4 linked regions of the Homo sapiens genome follow. The protein of the gene in region 1 interacts with the protein of each later gene in a biochemical or structural test. Each region holds a gene or a part of one and is shown on either strand. Other genes may lie near its edges.

What was found.
Region 2: the proteins of NUP155 (region 1) and CDC42 form a complex in vitro, tested with the Homo sapiens proteins (one large-scale study listed by BioGRID).
Region 3: the proteins of NUP155 (region 1) and HDAC4 form a complex in vitro, tested with the Homo sapiens proteins (one study listed by BioGRID).
Region 4: the proteins of NUP155 (region 1) and NUP98 form a complex in vitro, tested with the Homo sapiens proteins (2 studies listed by BioGRID).

What each region holds. Positions count from the first base shown.
Region 1 is NC_000005.10:37,305,056-37,308,707, forward strand, and holds part of NUP155 (nuclear pore complex protein Nup155), read right to left. Parts: intron 2,378-3,652; coding exon 2,242-2,377; intron 156-2,241; coding exon 2-155; intron 1-1.
Region 2 is NC_000001.11:22,097,709-22,101,860, reverse strand, and holds the end of CDC42 (cell division control protein 42 homolog isoform 1 precursor), read right to left. Parts: 3' UTR 501-4,152; downstream 1-500. UniProt on the Homo sapiens protein: Plasma membrane-associated small GTPase which cycles between an active GTP-bound and an inactive GDP-bound state. In active state binds to a variety of effector proteins to regulate cellular responses. Involved in epithelial cell polarization processes.
Region 3 is NC_000002.12:239,135,521-239,139,020, forward strand, and holds part of HDAC4 (histone deacetylase 4), read right to left. Parts: intron 1-3,500. UniProt on the Homo sapiens protein: Responsible for the deacetylation of lysine residues on the N-terminal part of the core histones (H2A, H2B, H3 and H4).
Region 4 is NC_000011.10:3,696,555-3,700,054, reverse strand, and holds part of NUP98 (nuclear pore complex protein Nup98-Nup96 isoform 1 precursor), read left to right. Parts: intron 1-706; coding exon 707-973; intron 974-3,500. UniProt on the Homo sapiens protein: Plays a role in the nuclear pore complex (NPC) assembly and/or maintenance. NUP98 and NUP96 are involved in the bidirectional transport across the NPC. May anchor NUP153 and TPR to the NPC.

The DNA of each region.
Region 1 (3,652 bases):
CATGATGTCCTGCTTCTTCATTACTCAGCATATTTGGATCAGATGACAACACTGGAGGACCAGGTTTTTTGGGTACACTGGGAGACTGAGGAGCGGCCTTACTTTGATTTACCAGTTCTTGAAGTGTGTCTGTAATGCATTTGTAACTGTTTAATCTGAAAGAAAATGGAAAAGGAACAATTACATTATTTAACTAGAAAGCAAATGATGGTAAGTGTGGTGACTCACGCCTGTAATGCCAGCCATAGGGAAGTCAAGGTAGGAGGACGGCTTGAGGCTGGGAGTTCAAGACTAGCCAGGGCAACAGAGCGGGACCACGTCTCTACAAAAAATACAAAAAAATTGGCTGGGCACAGTGCCTCACACCTGTAATCCCAGCACTCTGGGAGACGAAGGCAGGGGGACTGCCAGAGGTCACGAATTTGAGACCAGCCTGGCCAACCTGGTGAAACCCCGTATCTGACAAAAATACAAAAATTAGCCGGGCTTGGTGGTGCATGCCTGTAGTGCCAGCTATTCAGGTGAGTGAGGCACAAGAATTGCTTGAACCTGGGAGGCAGAGGTTGAGGTGAGCTGAGATCATGCCACTGCACTCCATCCTGGGTGACAGCAAGACCCTGTCTCAAAAAACAAACGAACAAAAAACAAAACAAAACGAAACAAAAAATTAACCAGGCGTGGCGGTGTGCACCTGTAATCCCAGCTACTTGGGAGGCAGAGGCAGGAGGATCGCTTGAGCCTAGGAATTCAAGGCTGCAAGTGAGCTATTATCATGCCACTGCACTCCAGCTCAGGCAACAGAATGAGGCCCTGTCTCAAAAACAAAAAACAAAACCCCCCAAAAACAAAACAAAACAAATAACAAAAAAGAAAGCCATTGATTTACCTTACCTAAGTATATACAAGGATTTCAAGACTATTTGGCAGAATAGATGTACATATTTGGCATTTAAAATAATACAAACCATATACTTTTTCAATAAGTTTGAGAAGTGTTTGGTTAAACATTAAAAGGGTAAAGTCATTAAATATAGTAATAAAAAAATATGTTTTCGCCAGATGTGGTGGCTGACACCTCTAATCTCAGCACTTTGGGAGGCTGAGAAGAAAGGATTGCTTGAGCCCAGGAGTTAAAGACCAGCCTGGGCAATATAGTGAGGCCCTGTCTCTACAGAAATTAAAGAGAAAAAAAAAATTAGCCGAGTGTGGTGACATGTGCCTGTAGTCCCAGCTACTCAGGAGGCTGAGGTAGGAGGATCACTGGATCACTTGAGCCCAAAAGGTCAAGAGTACAGTGAGCTATGATGGTGCCACTGACTCCAGCCCAGGAGACAGAGTGAAGCTTTGTCTCAAAAACAAAAACAAAAACAAAACAAAACACCCTCCATATATATATGTTATAGAAAGGTTATATATTTCTTCTTTGTTCCGAGACGGAGCCCTGCTCTGACGCCCAGGCTGGAGTTCTGTGGTGCAATCTCAGCTCACTGCAGCCTCTGCCTCCCGGGTTAAAGCAATTCTCCTGCCTCAGCCTCCCAAGTTGCTGGGATTACGGGTGTGCACCACCACGCCTGGCTAATTTTTGTATTTTAGTAGAGACAGGGTTTCACTATGATGGCCAGGCTGGTCTCGAACTCCTGACCTCATGATCTGCCCACCTCAGCCTCCCAAAGTGCTGGGATTACAGGCGTGAGCCACTGTGCCTGGCCTATATTTCTTTTAAGGACACACATTTCCTTTTTAACAGTCTCAACAAATTTGGGAATACTTAAAAATTATCCTTTAAAATGAAATCCTACTGGACATGGTGGCTCATGCCTGTAATCCCAGCACTTTGGGTGGTCGACCTTTACACAAAGAGGCCAGACACGGTGGCTGATGGCTATAATCCTAGCACTTTGCAAGACTGAGGTGGGTGGATCACTTGAGGTTAGGAATTCAAGACCAGCCTGGCCAAAATGGTGAAACCCTGTCTCTACTAAAAATACAAAAATTAGCCAGGCGTGGTGGTGTGCACCTGTAATCCCAGCTACATGGGAGGCTGAGGCACGAGAATAGCTTGAACCTGGGAGGCAGAGATTGCAGTGAGCCAAGATCACACGACTGCACTCCAGCCCAGGTGACAGAGCAAGACTCTGTCTCAAAAAAAAAAAAAAAACATAAAACAAAAAACAAAAAACATTATGCAAAGAAAAGTCTGTATCCATAAAGATGACAATCTGCTAACGTAATGGAATGCACCTTTCTTGGAAGGCCTGAAGTCCAACTATGTCTTCTTCTGGTTCTCCATGTTTATAGAAATGAAGCCCAAGACCTTGAGGATCTTTTTTCTCTGCAGCCGTAAGAGAAAGTTCCACCACACCCTCATAAAATCTCACTGATGGGAAAGAAAAGAATGAAGACCTATGACTTACTACTAAGTTGGATACATTTTTCCTTAGCTGGCACATGAAAATAATGATCAAGGTTATGTCTCTACTGTACAATAGTCACCCTGCTAACATAAAATATTTCTGATAGGTCTTCAGAAGGAAAAGGTCTTAATATGCCTAAAAGGCAACTGTTAAATATATTTCTTCATTGGGGGCCAGGTGTGGTGGCTCACGCCTGTAATCCCAGCACTTTGGGAGGCTGAGAGGGGGCAGATCACAAGGTCAGGGGTTCGAGACCAGCCTGACCAACATGGTGAAACCCCACCTCTACTAAAAATACAAAAATTAGCTGGGCCTGGTGGCATGCGCCTGTAATCCCAGCTACTCAAAAGGCTGAGGCAGGAGAATCACTTGAACTAGCGAGGCAGAGGTTGTAGTGAGCTGAGATTGCACCATTGCACTCCAGCCTGGGTGACAGAACAAGACTCTGTCTCACAAAAAAAAAAAGAAAAAGGAAAAAAAAAAATATATATATATATATATTTCTTCATTGGAAAAAAAAGATCCTATTTCAAATAACAAAAAGGAAAGTTTTAGTTCCCTACTGGGGGGAAAAAAATACCTTGGGATTCAAAATAATACCTGTGCAAATAGTTATGGCCTTTACATTATGTTAGATTTGATTTAAAGTAATTTTTTAAAAAGTAAGCAGATTATACCTTAAAACTCAATAAAAAATTTTAAATATCTGAAAAATAAATGTAATCCAGAAAGCAATGTAAAACATACAGTAATTGAACTGGACAAGAACTGAAACTCTAATGCTAAAAAGTTATACATTTCGGCTGGGCGCAGTGGCTCATGTCTGTAATCCTAGCACTTTGAGAGGCTGAGATGGGTGGATCACCTGAGGTCAGGAGATCGAGACCACCCTGGCTAACATGGTAAAACCCCACCTCTACTAAAAATACAAAAATTAGCTGGGCAATGGCCGGGCGCGGTGGCTCACACCTGTAATCCCAGCGCTTTGGGAGGCTGAGGTGGGTGGATCATGAGGTCAGGAGATTGAGACCATCCTGGCTAACATGGTGAAACCCATCTCTACTAAAAATACAAAAAAATTAGCCGGGCATGGTGGCAGGCGCCTGTAGTCCCAGCTACTTGGGAGGCTGAGGCAGAATGGCGTGAACCTGGGAGGCAGAGCTTGCAGTGAGCTGAGATCGCACCACTGCACTTCAGCCTGGGTGACAGAGCAAGACTCTGTCTCAAAATAAAAAAAA
Region 2 (4,152 bases), on another chromosome or scaffold:
GTATTTATCCTATAAACAAAAACCAACTCGGTCTTTACTGGTTACTGCTATACATTTTTTTTAAAACTACAGACTGAACCAAACTTAGAATCTCTCAACTATATCAGTAAAAATCTAAAAAGATTCTCCATATAGGGATAATAATCACAAAATTCTTGAAGACTCACTAGTCTACTTGTATATTTAGTATACAGGTTTTATAGATTTTTGTTAACTACCTGTCAATAGCTAGCAAAAAATCCTGAAACTTAAGAGGCTACAGAAATGAACCTGCACCAGTCGTGTTCAAATCCCTTGGCAACACCTTAGAGGTTACTAGGGCTGCACAAAGTTTATCTCTGTTTGCAACAAGGAGGCAGTGGGAAGAGTAAAGCTGCTGGGCCTGCATTAACTACAGCAACTCTGTTTCATACACCTTTTCTGTTTCTACAGTGGGGCTCTATATAAGCTTTTGTTTATGAAAAAGAAGGCCTACTGAAAAAAAGACACAAACCAAAAAGGAACAGAAACTCATTTTATTGAGATGAGGAAACCAAGGCCCAAAAAGGTATGGCAACTTGCCCAAGGAAACTCTGGTGCCTCAACTAGAACCTGGATCTTCAACTTCCAACTGAGAGCTCTTTCCAACAGTGTTATTACTACCATGGGAGAAATGAAGATATAGTATCAAACACCATAATGCAAGTTAGGAGCAAAAACAGGACTTGATTTATCACGCTATATGTACCAGGGTTCACGGAGTTTTCTAGCAGCAGAGGAGATAATCACAAACTCAGCACCCTCCAGTAAAGTCATTCTTACAAGAAGCCAGTGAAGAATTCACAGGTGCCTGCCCACCCTTCACAAGCTGCCAAGAGATGGACCTAACTCCTTAACACCAATAATTCCAATACAATTGTGAAATCCTCAAGTTATGGAGAAAAAGGAGCATTTCTTTAAGAGCTTCAGAATCAAGACAAAAAAAATCCCTCTCCCATCAAACTAGTGCAAACCTTACAAAGGAGGGCTAAGAAGCTAGCACTGGGGCCCCATGGTGGGTCTGGAACTCCATACACATTTCCAGCCCTATCAGAGTTGGTTAGAGATGAAATTAAAAGCCTTACTCTACTCCTGGCAATGAGTATGAGGAGGAAGCCCCTCACTGATACAGCAGTTTAAGACCCAGAAGTCAACAGGGTTTTCTGGTCCTGATTTGATGTGAGCCAACAATGATGACAGTGATGAAGACAGCTGCTATCTACCCCATTCACAGATGAGTACCTTCTACTTGCCAGGCACTATGCTAAGAACCTCACATATAGCAATTCATGTCACTCTCACAACTCTTGGGCAAAGTACAGCTATTTCCACTTCACAGAGAATGCAACACTCAGAGCATTTAAGTTACTTGCCTGAAGACATAGATCAAGTTAGTGGCAGAGCCAAACTCAAATCCAAAGCCTATGCATGTACTTCGCACAACACCAACAATGCCAAGTTGTTTCGCCTCAGTTTTACCATTTGACAAATGACATCATCCATCCCTGCCTCTTTTACAGAGTTGTACTGAGGTCAAGTGAAATCACTAATACAAACATGACTTGAAGTTTAGGAGTTTACTACTTAAACTCAAAAACTGCATGAGTATCCCTGACCGTTTGCAGAGAAGATGAAGGCAGAGCCCCAGTCATCTCCCTGTGCTTGGGTCAAGCTAATGAAAGAAGGGAGCCAGGTTGCAGAGCTGGCTCCAAGCCTCCCTCAGACCTTGGGTATTCACTAAGGTGCAACTTTCTCACCAAACAAACCCTGCTCTTCCCAACTCACAGGCCTATTATACAAAAAAAAAAAAAAAGAAGAAGAAGAAGAAGAAAGAAAAAAAGGCCAGCTGAGCAGACTCTAGAGACAGACTGCTTAAATTCAAATCCCAGTTCCCTCACTTACTAGCTCTGAATTCTTGGACAAGCTAGCTCTGAATTCTTGGACAAGCTTTGTATCATAACATGCCTCAGTTTCCACATATGAAAAAATGGGGGATTGCTGAGAAGACTGAGTTAATTCACACAAAGGCTTAAAAGAGTGCCATGTAGAGAATAAACACTCAAATTTTAAGAAGGACCAAATGACACAATGGGCAAAGGCACCCTACAATCCTCTAAAGCTACACCTTTAGATCCTCTAAAGGAAGAAGGTGTCATATTCTCTCATGCTACAACTGATCCTAAAGTCACCTCCCCCAAAAAGCTCCTACCCAACAAACCTACCCTTACAGATGAAGCCTTTTATGCTGCTTTGCTTGCCCTGTGCACTATATGATGCTTCAACTACGATTTTCAGCTTTGTAATTAATCATATACATTTTATTTCCACATAAGATATGTAATGGTAAGCACACAGTTTCCAAAATCAGACAGATAGGATTTCCAACTCTGGCTGCATATACCAAGCAATTATGATGTCTCAGAGTCCTGCTCCATAAAAAGAAGATACCTGTACTATCAACCTCAGAGCTGTTGTGAGTAGCAAGTGTGATAACACCATGTGCTTAACACAGTGCAAAGGCACACAGTAAGAGCTCAATTAACAAAGCTGTTATTTCGCCAGAATATGTCCCCATTTCTTTTATGATTCTCAGCAGTTAGGGCAGAGCCCTCCTGGATGTGATTAATATTCCTTCCTTAATGCACCAATTTATTTATGGGGGCCTTGAGGCTACCTTTCTTCCTACTGCACCCGTCCCTATGCCGTGGTGAAGCAGGGCCCCCAGCCACTCTGCAAACATGCCTGGGCCCTCCTTTGTTCACATTCCCTCCACTCAGAAATCCATACCCAGCTGGGCACAGTGGCTAATGCCTGTAATCCCAGCACGTTGGGAGGCCGAGGTGGGAGGATCAGCTCAGGAGTTCGAGACCAGCCTGGGTAAAATGGCAAAACCCCCTCTCTACACAAAATGCAAAAATGAGCCAGGCGTGGTGTCACACACCTGTAGTACCTTCTACTCGGGAGGCTGAGGCGGGAGGATCGCTTGAGCTGGGGAGGTCAAGGATGCAGTGACCCAAGACCACGACACTGCACTCCAGCCTGGGTGACAGAGTGAGACCCTGTCTCCAAAAAATAAATAAGTAAAGCTGTAATGACCTATAGCCCAGAAATACTCTAAAATTCATGTCTGACACAAATAAAACCTTAAGAAATCATCTCATGTCATGGTTTTCAAACCAATGGCACATTAATCTGATGGGCTTTAAAGAAGTGATGCCTCTAAAAAATAATTTATAAAAATTTAAATGGTGCTCAGATCCTATTTCAAAACAATATGGCCCTAAGCACTGCTTTCCTTTTTTAAAAATAAGCTTCTTAGGTAACATTACACAGAACCCTTTTAACTTTTTCAAAGTTTCAAAAAGGTTCTATCACCAAGGTGTGCACTGGTCCCTAAACATAGCTCAACAAAGTTCTATCTGGGAATCTTTTAGAAATTAGATTGATTCTCAGGTCCCATTGCATACTTACAGATTCAGAATCTCAGGAGTATTTTTTTTTTCAGCCTTCCCATCTAATTGTTCACCAACCAGGAACCCGAACTGCATTTGAGACCTCAATGATAACTAAGTATGCAATTTTACAGATAATGAGGCCAGAAAAGTGGAAGCTACCTGCCAAAGGGCACGTTGTTAGGAGTAATAATGCAAACTTCATCAAAATAAAAAGATGCTTGTTCAAAATGTAGGCTCCTAGTCTCTACCCCTAAAGATTGAGAGTAAATCCTACAGGGTCCAGGAATCCTGATGACTGAGACAAGTGATCCACAGTTCACACCGAGAAAAAGCACTGCTCTGCGGGACGCATCAGAGCAAACAGAACAGTTATGATCCTGTGCTCTATTGTAATAGGGTTGAGAAAATGCTATACTTACCTTAGCCTTGAAAATCTGTCACTTCTACTTCAGAGATGCATGGTGGACCCAAAATCCATCGAGCATTTATTTGCTTTTGGGGAAATCACCTATGAGACTATGACACTGCATTAAAATCAGGGCTCTCCTCCCATCCTGACCCCACTAATCAGCAATGTGCTTTTAAACCTTCCACTGTACTCCTTTATTAGACATACTTCACATTTTTCTATAACGTAGGGCTTTAAAGACTCACTGGATATGCCTCTAAGAGGCAAGTG
Region 3 (3,500 bases), on another chromosome or scaffold:
GGCCTAGAGGAACGGCGAACACTGTTGGGTGAATCACAAATCAGTTAGTGGCACCCTTTCTGCAGGACAATTTGGCAATCTATGTCAAAGGCCTTCAAAATCTGTCTAACCTTTGATGCTGGAGCTCCACTCTTGGGATGTAACGTTAAGAAATAAGGAGATGGCCTGATGCCCATGAAGCCTCCGCTGCAGGGCCGAGCACCCAGCAGGCATGGCAGAGCTATGCGGCTTCCCCGACACCTTGGTGTTAACAGAACGGAGGGGCATTGCACACCGGGATGCTCTGGGGGTTGGGAACGATCTAGCTGATTACTTGGACACTTGTTTATGATACATTAAGTTAGAAAAACAGGTTATAGATCATGTACCTTTTAAAGAATGGGCTTGGATAAAGCAAACACAAGCCAGGAGTAAAGATTAGAAGGCCACACAGGAAGAGTCAGCAGCAACAGTCTCCAAGGACTTGAACTACTGTGATATTTAACATCTTTTTGCTTGTAGAATGAACGTGTTTTGCTAAAAAGGACAATAGTTTATCACCACTATATCCCCTACACAGTAGCTACTCAAGGAATGTCTGCTGAATGAATGGGCAAACAAAGAGAAGGAATAAAATGTTGTTGTAATCATGCTAGTTAGTGGGGTTTGGCAGATAGAAATCCCCTTGCCAGAAGCTAACGTTAATAATGAATAGATAACAGATTTCATTATACTCTCTACCTCCATGACAGCAACGTTTTTAGCTCCCCCAGATGAATGAGAAAATGCCATGTTTGTCTTTCTGTGCCTGGCTTAGTTCACTTAACATGAGGGCCTCTAGTTCCATCTATGTTGCTGCAAATGTCAGGGTTCTATCCTTTTTGATGGCTGCATGGTATTCCACTGTGTACAGCACCACATTTTCTCTGTCTATTCATCCACTGAAGGACACTGAGGTTGATTCGACCTCTTGGCTATTGTGAAAGATCCATGGCTAAGACCTCAAAAGCACAGGCAACAAAAACGAAAACAGGCAACTGGGACTCTGCTCAACTAAAAAGCTTCTGCACAGCAAAGGAAGAGAATCACCAGAGTGAAGAGACGACCTGTGGGAAGGGGAAACATGTGCAAGCCATTCATCCGACAAGGGAGCAGTATCCAGAACATGCGGGAACTCCAGCAACTCACCAGCAAAACCTGAAGCAGCCAGTATAAAAGTGGGCCAAGGATCTGAAGAGACATTTCCCCAAAGACATATGACTGGCCATTGGGGATAGGAAGAAACGCTTCTCCTGACAAACACTTACACTCAGGCTGTTCCTACAGAACAGAAAGCCCGGCCTTCTCACTTAGGAGCAAACTCACGGCGCACCTCGCCCCAGAGGAAACCCTGCAACTCCCTTTAGATTTGCTCACATATTACATTGTGTAAGGAATGATTAAAGGGCTACTGAGGAAAACATTTTTCCTAGGCAATTTTTTTTTTGTCAAAAGTTAAAGAATTATCAGTAAGTTATGCTGTAGAGGAAATGCTTGTGTTATCATTTGGGAACAAAATAAGGAGACGTTCTAATGTTTGCAAAGTTTTCATTTCCTTTGTAAGCAAGGTTTTTTTTAAGCCCATTTCTGGAACTAAAGGAGGCTTCTGAGAATTTGTTCCTTGGAGATGCCGACTGGTCCACCTGAGAAATCGCAGGGCGTTCTGGCATCTGCTGCCTCGGGGCCGAGCCCTGCGGGAGGCATTCTGAGGCTGGCGCCCCCGGACCGCATCTCAGCATGTGCTCAGAGGGAAAGTCCGCGGGCCTGAGGTCAGAGCATCCAGGCACGCGTGTAAATAACAGCAGCAGCGGCCACAGAGGAGCTGTCCCCTTACGCACCTGGGCGACTTCCTCTCACTCTCTGAGCCCTGCCTCCTCCCTGTAGAGGAGGTGCCGGCACACTGGGCTTCCCTGGCCTGTAGAGGAGGAGGTGCCGGCACTCTGGGCCTCCCTGGCACTGTAGAGGAGGAGGTGCCCGGCACACTGGGCTTCCCTGGGTCCAGGGGGCCTTCAAGGTACAGTAGTGTTTCTAGGGACCCCAGGGTGAACAGAAAAGGCAGTGCTGAGAGCCAGGCTGGGAGGCCCCTGCTCCCCCCACATCCTCATCCACTCGAGACACCCCCTCTGACGGGCAAGCTCACTACACTCTGCACCACGTGAGAACGGAGAGCCAGCCCCTGGCCATGAAGCACAGGTGTTCTCACAGACCCGTCCAACTCTAGAGATACTGAAACCCAGAAAGGGCGCCTGGGTGTGATCCAACATGCAAAGGCTGCCCGTGCCCACTCTAATGAACATCTGATGTGGAACATGAACAATGGCACCTCTTGGTATTTCCTGTAACTCCTTCTACATGTTCTATTAATTTCCAGTAGCTTCATTTACGTATCGTGATTTCTAAAAATTAACACAGAACTGGAATGATGCAGACCCACCCAAACAAGGCACTGTTCCAATATTAACTACCATGTACATAAGTGCCTCATTTTAAATAAAAACATGTATCTAGGACCACAATCAACAAGATGCAACCAGTGTTAACCTCAGGGCAGGAAGTAATTTCTAGGTTGCATTATAAGGCTTATTACTGGTAGACCTCAGCTATGACCACAGCCATACAGAGGACTGTTAAAACTTCTAATCATCTAAATAAGTACTGAAGTTGGCAGGCTGAAGAAGACAGGTAATAAAAGAAATCGATGTATGAAGTAGAAAGAGTAAGAGAAATTGGGGATTAAGCAGCCTGGAGACAAAGGGCAAAATTCGTTCTGAGCAGTAATTCTAGTCTCTAAAAATGTTTATACATAAACGGTCTTGAAATTTGAAATGAAAATGCTAAACACTCATGCCTCTGTATCCCAGCTAAGATTTGCCAATCCTTTGGAAGGGCAGGATTCATTTCTAAATATTTAAGAAGGAAAGTCAATAACTATATTTAATAAATTATAGCCTTCTGTAAGTTGGAGAGAATTCAGAAAGAACCTCCCACTCAGTAGAACTCTGCCCCATGAAGCAGACACAGCATTTCCAGCTCAACTCATCAGAAAACTCACTGCTAAAGCGTACCCCTCCCACCCCTGCCCTGCAGTCAGGCCCACCCAGGCCCAGGGCACCACTCAGCCTGCGGGACTGCCTCTCTCTGCCTCTCTCTTCTTCCCCGTGCTCTGGGGGTGGCCTCTCCTTGTCAGTGGGGCATTGTGTGGAGTGTGGGGCAGGTCCTTGCTGCCTGCCTGGTTCTGTCCCTGGGCCTGGCACAAGGCGCTCGGGACACGTGTGGGATAAAGGCAGGGGGCGCAAAGGAGCTCAAGGAACACGGAGCGAGGTCCTCGGACCTGCTGCCCTGGAAAGCCTCCGAGTATGGTCAGTGTGCGACTCGGCCAGCCTGGGCGCCACTCCTCCCTGCCTTGCCACTCAGCTCCTGCGTCTCTGACATCTTTCCCACCTAGGGACTCCAAGCGTCCCCTGACTCCTCTCTAGCTTGCC
Region 4 (3,500 bases), on another chromosome or scaffold:
CCTATCCATTCTTCCATATCCAGCTCAAGTACTGTTGGTCTTCTCAACAGCTTTGTTGTAATTCCTCTTCCTGGCTTCTTTCAAGATTACCTTTCTCATCTATCATGACCATGTTTTTCTGAATCAATACTTTGATAAAGGGGTTATCTAATTTATTAATATTTCAAACAGTAGAAAAATCATTTTGTTTAGCAAATCACGTTTATTGAAAAATGGGCTGTTTTAGAATGTCCTATGCCACACGTTTTGAGATTTGTTTATGTTCCTTCAGTTCTTTGTATTTACTTAATCGTCTCATTGTCTTTTCAAATGTGTAAGTTATTTTACCAGTGCATACTTGTAAGTGGCTTAAATGATAAACAGTACTTTTGTAGATTGATTTTTATAGACAGAATTTGATCAAAGTAGATATCATCTGAGATGACACTAGCCATAATTAGGCTTGGGGAACCTGTTTAACGGTTACATTTGTTATGTAAGTACCACAGAAACATGATATGAGCAAGCATTTATTTATACTATGTACTTCTGGAAATTGTAAGACGAAGTTGAGTGAGGTAGAGACAGATTCAGGGTAATCAGCTTGAGTGGTTGTTTGAGATGTCTATTAATTTATGTATTTTTAACATCACAGTTAGAAGGATGCCCTCTGTGAAGTTGTTGTAAGACTTTGTCTCGTAACATTGTTTTTCTCTTCCTGCCTTAGTTGTGAAGCACTGGAGCCTGACATGGACACTATGTGAAGCCCTATGGGGCCACCTGAAGGAGCTTGACAGCCAGCTAAATGAACCCCGTGAATACATTCAAATTCTGGAGCGAAGAAGAGCTTTCTCCCGCTGGCTATCCTGTACTGCCACACCTCAGATTGAAGAGGAAGTCTCCTTAACCCAAAAAAACAGCCCTGTGGAGGCTGTATTCAGCTACCTCACAGGCAAAAGGATCAGTGAGGCCTGCTCTCTGGCCCAGCAGTCAGGTGGGGAAGGCATATGGTCCTTCTCTGCGCCTCTGTCGCCTTCCTACTCACTGCCTCCTACCGCTCCCCGCTAATTGTGCATTTCCCTTTGGCTTCTAGCCTATGAGTATTAATTGCGGACTTCCCAGAAAGATTGCTGGTTCCCGTGGAATATGTAATATAACATAAAATTTAACTTTTAATCAAGTAAACAATGTTTAAGGTCCTAAACAGAGAATTAGAAGACATAGTGCGGCTGGGCTCAGTGGCTCATGCCTGTAATTCCAGCACTGTGGGAGGCCAAGGTGGGTAGATCACACCCACCTATTCCTATAGAATAGGAACCATGACTTTTTTTTTTTTTTTTTTTTTTTTTTGAGACAGTTTCACTCTTGTTGCCCAGGCTGGAGTACAATGGTGCGATCTCGGCTCACTGCAACCTCCTCCTCCTGGGTTCAAGCGATTCTCTTGCCTCAGCCTCCCAAGTAGCTGAGATTACAGGTGCCTGCTACCACACCTGGCTAATTTTTGTATTTTAGTAGAGACAGGGTTTCACCATGTTGGTCAGGCTGGTCTCGAACTCCTGACCTCAGGTGATCCACCCACCTTGGCCTCCCAAAGTGCTGGAATTACAGGTGTGAGCCACTGCACCCAGCCGAACTATGTCTTCTAATTCTTTTTTTAGGACCTTAAACATTGTTTACTTGATTAAAATTTAAATTTTATATTACATTTGTAATAAAACTAGAAAGCATAGATAAGCTATCAATCAAAATCACCCAAATCCTGTGACTACTACTCACTGCAAACATTTTAATGTGCAATTTGTACTTAATTCTTTACTTTGTAATACATACAAATATGTCCAGACACTGTGACATATGCTTGTGAACTTTTCAAAGGTGATATCCTGCTGTGTATTATATTCTGTTCTTTTCATGTGGCACATTACAAATGCCCTGTAATACAGATAATTATCAAATACTTCTTAGCATTCTTTTATGTATAAATGTACCATAGTAGTAAATTTCTTCCTTCACATTGAGACTTTTTTTAAAACTATAAACAGTACTCTGAATTGCTATAAAATATGTTCTATATCAATTCATTCAAATAAATATATAGAAGTTGAATTTCTGGGTTGAGGTACTCACTGGCTTTTTAAAAGGAATTTATATGCATATATTTACTTCTTTAAGTTCCCTTTCACTAATGAGGCAATTCAGCAAGTACTTAATGACTGCCTAGATATAAATCTTTTTTTTTTTTTTTTTTTTTTTTTAAGACAGAGTCTGTCTGTGTGTTTACCAGACTGCTGGAGTGCAGTGGAACGATCTCAGCTCACTGCAACCTTTACTTCCTGGGTTCAAGCGATTCTCCTGCCTCAGCCTCCTGAGTAGCTGGGATTACAGGTGCCTGCCACCATGCCCAGCTAGTTGTCTTTTTTTTTATTTTTAGTAGAGACAGGGTTTCGCCATGTTGGCCAGGGTGGTCTCAAACTCGTGACTTCCAGTGATCCACCCACTTTGGCCTCCCAAGTGCTGGGATTACAGGCATGAGCCACCGTGCCTGGCCATAAAGTCTTGATAAGAATACAGGATGGCATAGTTCAGCTTAATCTAATATGATCAGATCCTTATTCAAACCTTGATTGTTGGAACCTAATTTATCCAAAGCCAACTAATTGGAGCCATCGACTGGATTTATTTTGAAGAGTTTTGCCACTTTTGGGATTATAAGGAACAAATCACAGGAAAAGCCAGAATCAGTAAGCTATATAAAGGGCTTGTTGCATTCCACTGTCACTACACATTTAGCCTGGTAGCTTCCTGTTTTCTTTTCTTTTTATTTTTTAAATAGAGATGGGGTCTGTATGTTGACCAGGCTGGTCTCAAACTCCTGGCGTCAAGCAGCCCTCCTGCCTCAGCCTCCCAAAGTGCTGGGATTAGAGGCGTGAGCCACCACATCCAGCCTCCGTCTGGTACTATTTATGGTCTTTGTGCATTTGTACAGTGAGAATTTATCTTTGGGATTGATCTTGTATGAACTTATTATGAATCATTAAAAAAAGGTTATGCTCACCAGGACACCAACATGTAGTAGGAGAGGATCTTAAGGCATGCCAGAGTCAGATTCTTAGGGCTGTTGATTCATAAACTCCACTTTCTTCCTGTTTATTTTGACTGTAAGGCTAAACCTCTGGTAAAGGTACTGCCTTTTAGGTTACTAAAAGCTTTTGCTTTACTACTCCCCCCCTTTTTTTTTGTTTTTTGTTTTGTTTTTGTTTTTGTTTTCGAGACAGTCTCGCTCTGTACCCCAGGATGGAGTGCAGTGGCATAATCTTGGCTCACTACAACGTTTGCCTCCTGGGTTCAAGCGATTCTCCTGCCTCAGCCTCCTGAGTAGCTGGGATTACAGGTAACGTGCCACCACACTCGGCTAACTTTTGTATATTTAGTAGAGATGCCGTTTCGTCATGTTGGCCAGGCTGGTCTCGAACTCCTGACCTCAGGTGATCCGCCTGCCTCAGCCTTCCAAAGTGCTGGGA